Linked DNA regions of Homo sapiens: region 2 is linked to region 1. Evidence: fine-mapped expression QTL. A gene starts in region 1. The other region holds a variant in brackets. All regions are shown on one strand. Distances are between the middles of the regions.

The links. PIP is the estimated chance that this variant, and not a neighbour inherited with it, causes the effect.
Region 2: its variant is the best candidate, but not a certain one, in a credible set for the expression of YTHDC2 in aorta (GTEx, PIP 0.54).

The regions. Positions count from the first base shown.
Region 1 is chr5:113,511,887-113,514,810 of GRCh38, reverse strand. It overlaps YTHDC2 (YTH N6-methyladenosine RNA binding protein C2), which reads right to left and starts at 1,117. Exons shown (of 30, transcript NM_022828.5): 1 at 729-1,117. The coding sequence starts at 915. LOC124901046 (a long non-coding RNA gene) reads left to right here and starts at 1,153. Exons shown (of 2, transcript XR_007058905.1): 1 at 1,153-1,380; 2 at 1,871-2,924. RefSeq lists a silencer at 632-861 and enhancers at 814-1,315, 1,312-1,361.
Region 2 is chr5:113,562,442-113,565,365 of GRCh38, reverse strand. It overlaps YTHDC2 (YTH N6-methyladenosine RNA binding protein C2), which reads right to left. Exons shown (of 30, transcript NM_022828.5): 19 at 1,874-1,993; 20 at 1,235-1,507. Among named protein-coding and RNA genes, the nearest start is that of YTHDC2, 50 kb to the right of the region's middle. The variant C/T (reference allele first, on the strand shown) is at 1,187.

The DNA of each region.
Region 1 (2,924 bases):
CGTATTTCACTATTTCAGAGGGATTTGTTATATATTGCTGAGGCTTTCTCTTTTTTTAATGTGAATTTAGAATCTCTCTGTCTAGAACATTCCCCGTTTTGGACTATAAGATTCCAGAGTAAGAGGTCCCCTAACTAAGCCAGCAGGTCCGAATGAGCCCTCAACAGACTGCACAGGTCACCGCAGGTCAGTTGCTGGTTCTGCATTATATGACCCAAGACAAGTGGCTATCTAACCTCAAGAGGTGTGGAAGATGCTTCGTGTGCCAAACAAGTTTAATTTAAGTGGGTAGCGTGATGCTTCAGGGTCCAAACGTATTGCTGGTGCATTTATTTATATGTTTGATTTCTTTCTGCTCTTCTACATCTGTAGCTTAAACGTGCCACAATTAGGTGACACCCCCTTAAAAAGGGTTAGGGCTAACCAATATCTGAAACACGGTGGCTTAACCGCCCAAGGCTGCTGAAAGACGCGGGGGAAAAACACTTTCAGCTAGGGAGCAAAGTGCCCATAACCCCATTGATCCGCAGAGCACCTCGCATTCCACCGCAGGGCCAACAGCCGCGTTCCAGACCCGGGTGCCGCCGCTGAGGCCCGCCCCGGACGGTGGCCCGGGTCTTCCCTCCCTCTTCGGAGGCACCCCCATCACTCGGTGGGCCGCCGTTTGGGGGGCGCTGGGGTGAGGGGGGTATCCTGACTGCCAGCATGGTCCCTGTCCGGAACCTCACCTCTCTGGTCCCCGTATCGGAAGCGCTCCAGCGCGATATTGACTGCGATCTTCACCTCCTCATCAATGCGAATGTCCTTCAGCCCCTTGGCCCGGCCGCCGCCCCCAGGGCCACAAGGCGAGGGGCCGCCGCCTCCGCCACCGCCAGGAGCCGGCTGCCGCGGGGAGACGCTGCTCGGCCTGGACATTGCCCTGAAGAGATGGTCTCTCCGCACGGGAGCGGCCAGGCCTGCTAGCTGACAGCCAATGACAAAGACCGTGGGAATCCGGGGCCACTACCGGGAAGCTCCGGAGACGGCCTGTGTTGGGCTGAGGTCACCAGAAAGGCCTCAGTCACCGCCACAGCAGAAGTGAAGCCTGCGCCATTGATATCACGGCCAGGCGAGGAGCGCGGGCGTAATGACGTCACCAGGGCCGGCGCCCGTGACCTCAGCGCGGCCGCCGCTGCGCGCCTAAAGGAGGCTGTCTGCGGAGCTATGGTGCGGTTCTCTTCCCGCGCCGCCCACCAAGGGTCGCTCCTCATCTTCTTATTCACTCACTTGCTACTTCGTTTAGTCCTTCATTAATTCCTGCAGTAAGCATGTATGGGCTTCTACTGTGGACCTGGCATTATGCCACGCCTTCGATGTACATTGGAGAACCAGAGAGCCAAGGTTCCTACCTTCATGGAGTTTATATTTTAGTGGGAGGAGGGTTGCCAGATTTAGCAAATAAAAATACAGAATGCTTAATAATTTGCATTTCAGATAAACGAATAATTTTTAGTGTATATATTTCCCATGCAATATTTGGAAAAATATCATAAAAAATACATATACTAAAGAATGAGCCACTGTTGTGTGTCTTGCATTCTTCCCTTTTCTGAATGGGAGATTTTAATGCAAGTATGCCACCCTTGCTCTATCACGCTACACAGGGTAGCTGAGTGGGGGCAGGTATGTAGTACATATTTACATAGTTCATGAGTTACCTGGCAATGAGGATATACATCTGGATCTAATAAAGAGGACTGTGTATCAACAACAGATCCTGGATGCAGTGACTAGATAGAATTCCAGGTGTCTGGGGAGGGTATATGTGTATTCTGTGTGTGGTAAGAAGGGGGCGGAATATTTGGTGACAAGAAGTATCTTTTCTTCCTAGGCATTATATTTCCCAACTCTCCTGCAGTTAGCTGGGGGCCACATGGCTGAGTTCCGGCCATTGGAATGTTGCTGGAACTGATGTATACCACTTCCAGGATTGGTCTATAACACCTTCCTTGAATCTTCCCTTCTCTGTCTTTCCTGGTCTTCTGGAAGTTCTTAGACAACGGTGGAACCACTAGATAGATAACAGGTTCCCGATTCCCTGAACGAGTGTGATAGAGTGTCCTCACCAACCCACATTGGAATATGACATGGGTAAGAAATAATTCTTAGTTGTGGTAAACTGCTGAGATTTGGGAAGATTTTTTTTTGTAACATTATGGTAAATTGTTGAATTCATCAAAGGTATGGCCTTTGATGAATCACACATTCCTCTGTTCACACCCTTGTATTCTTCCTTCCCACATGGACTCTGTCTTTGGCTATGTAACTTGCTTTGGCCATTGGGACATCAGCAAATACGAGATAAGCAGGGGCTTGAAAGGTGTTTGTGCATTAAGGCTTAGCCTGTTTTGCTGCTGAGAATTCTTCTTCCACAAAGTAAAGAAGCTTAGGCTAGCCCACTGACAACTATGGCCCAATCATCCACCAGCACCAAGGGCAAGACGTGAAAAAGGCCATAATGGAAAGTCTAGTCTTAGAAAAGCTGCTGGATGACCACAACTCTGTAAGCAACCCAAAGCAAGATTAGCAAAACCACCTAGCTAAACATAGTCCAAACTGTTGACCCACAGAACACATAAACAAATAAAATGAATATTGCTGTAAGCCACTAAGTTTTAGGTTGGGTTTCTTACACAGCAGTAGATAACTGATACAAAGAGTTAGCTTATTCTGACTAATATATTTGTACAATGATAAGGCTGATCTTGGGCATAAGTGACTAGGCTGAAAGAACTAGCTTCACCCGTTCCAGTTTGTACCCAGTTGCCTAAGAACTGGGGTCATCAACATCTTGATATGCCTGTAAACAACTTGTGGCATACGAGCATGCCACAGCACAGTGGTCTGGAGACTGCTCTCTTCTCATCTATAAAATTGACCTGGTA
Region 2 (2,924 bases), 51 kb before region 1:
TTTTGAAGGAGCTGGGGGAAAAGCAAAGAACAGATAGAAATTCTACTCTAAATCTCCCTCTACTTCTCACTCAACTATCTACTATAATATATGGTATTTAATATACCCAATTAATAACAATGAGTTATCCATTGATCAATACTCACAAAAGAGCTTGTAATTATTTTTGAAAATTATATGTGGTGAAAAAATCTTCTGTGTCTGAAAAAGAGTACTTTCTGCATAAACAAAGTTAGATTTTTAAAAAATATGGCTGGGCATGGTGGCTCACACATGGTAATCCCAGCACTTTGGGAGGCCAAAGCAGGCAGATCACTTGAGGTCAGAAGTTCGAGACCAGCCTGGCCCACATGGTGAAACCCTGTCTCTACTAAAAACACAAAAATTAGCTGGGCATGGTGGTGGGTGCCTGTAACCCCAGCTACTCGGGAGGCTGAGGCAGGAGAACTGCTTGAACCTGGGAGGCTGAGGTTGCAATGAGCCAAGACTGTGCCACTGCACTCCAGCCTGGGTGACAGAGCAAGACTGTCTCAAAAAACAACAACAAAAAAATGTATAGACACAGTCGACATTCAAGAAGATTTGAGAATAAATACAATGCCTATGTTTTCAAGAAATAACATATTCTTCCCCACATATCTGAAATTCTAAATTACATTTAATTTGTCTTCCCCAGGATCCTATTTTCCCCATCTTTTCTTTTCCATTTGCCTCTTTCCTCAACTTGCCATTACCATTATCTTAAAAGGTTTTTAAGTGATTTTTGTATTTTGCTTTACAAAATTAAGTTCTCAGCATAGTGTCTTGAGCAAACAAGAAAAAGGCTGAACTCTAAGAAAAATCGATAGATATTACATCAATATAATTTTCTTATAAGCTTTATTCTATGTACTTTAAATAGTATACAGTATTTCTTAACTGAAATTTTAGAACATTCCTTGCCCAAGACATGATTTAAAGAAACCTGGTAATAGAAGCATAAACACAAATAAATATATATACAAATACACACATATATTCCTATAAGGAGAAAATGGGAAAAAAGAGCAAAACTGTTTTAATTTTAACATAACAACAGCAAGAAGATATTTTTCAGGACTATTAATGTGACTTCATAATGAAACAAAATTAATGCAATTTTAAAATTTATAAATTATTTTTAAAATTCCTACATTTGCCCCAGAAA[C/T]GTGTTTACCCAGCAACGTCTTCAGAAATAAAATGACAGTAATAGTACCTGGAATGCTCTGAGAAGTGCCATATGGTCACTGAAAGCTCCTGCAGTAAAACGTTTCCTACAAAGCATAGCTGCACGTTTTTGAGAGGCCTGAGTAGGTAGTACAAAAGGATCTCGATAAGCTAGTGTGCAAGCAATTGTAAGGATGGGGTCCAGACACTTTAAAACAACAGCACACAAGACCATTTTACCAAGATGTGGTTCTACTGGCAAGTCAGCCAAATGATACCCAAGTTCAGTCAGATCTTCCCATGTATCCATTGCATCTATTGTCTAAGTAAAAGGAGACAGAACAGACTTTGATGTGAGCAAACTGTTTAATCAAAACACATAATTAAAAACCCCTAAATGAGAAATAAGAATATAGATTTTCTTTTGCTACTACATCTCATAAAAATATATTTCGTTTCTATTATACTATATAAAAGAACTATATCTACTGTTTCATACATGACAATATTATTTAAAGTACATGATCATTTAAGATAATTGTTTAAAAGTACAAAATTAGTTTATCTGGACACATGCAGGAGGACAAAAATAAAAAATAATTATACAAAATTAGTTAAGACATATTTCCTTTTAGTTTAAAATTTCAAGTAAAAATGTCATGTAAAATAAAACTATGAAGACACCAACCTTAAGCATTTGTACAGCATTTCTTACAATTAAAGCTGGTGGAGGTTCAGGAGCTTTCATAAGAAAATCAGCAATGGGACAATTAACTGGGGCTAACAGCTTGGTATGTAAGCAAAGTTCCTATAAACCAAAACAGTAAATAATTTTTTAAAATTAAAAAGAATACTAACCTACACATTTAAAGAAATCATGGGAACTACAGTTCCCAAACACAGACTAGTAGAGTCTCTGATTAGAATGAACAGTAGAAGGAACAATGTCTTTCTGTAAAAGATGAGCTCATACTTTGCCCTAGATGCCAGAACCTTAATAAATACCCTCTTCAATCAACTTATACCAAGATTGCCATTGCTCCCATTGGCAACATCTCCTCACACTGTTCGTATACATAACATTCATAGTCACTGTCCAAAAAAAAAAAAATCTTTTCCCCCCTTTATACTTACTACATTCTAGAATATTTTATCTACTCAGCAAATATTTAAGTGCTTTCTAAGTGCAAGGCCCTGTGCAAATTGGAGAAAAAGAAGGGGACAGAAGGAAGTGTCCATTCTCATTGAGTTTACACTGTAATATGAATAAGCAGACTTTAAATAATTAATTATATAATTAACTACTTAATTACGATTATCGTCAGTGCTATGAAGGCTATAGGGAGCTAAATAAGTAAATATGATTTAAGCAAGTTCAGAAAAGGGTGGGAGAGGGAGACCATGGGAAGTTACAGATAGTTTTCCTGAAGAAAGACACTTAAACTAAGATGTAAAGATTGAGTAGGAGTAACTATATAAGGAATAAGGGGAAACAATCTAAGGAGAGAGTAGATACCTGTGAAAGCTGTAAGGCAGAAGGAAAAAAGACGTGCTTGAGAAACTAAAACCAATGGTGTAAGAGAGGATAAGTAACAAGAAATCACCTGTTCCTTCCTTCCTGTGACTGGAGACACAGGCAGGAACAGGCAATTTACGCTCTTGTTAAGGATTGTGAATTTTCTCCCAGGAGGAACAGAAAATCACACATAAGCATTGGGAAGTGGGAAATCATCTTAGAT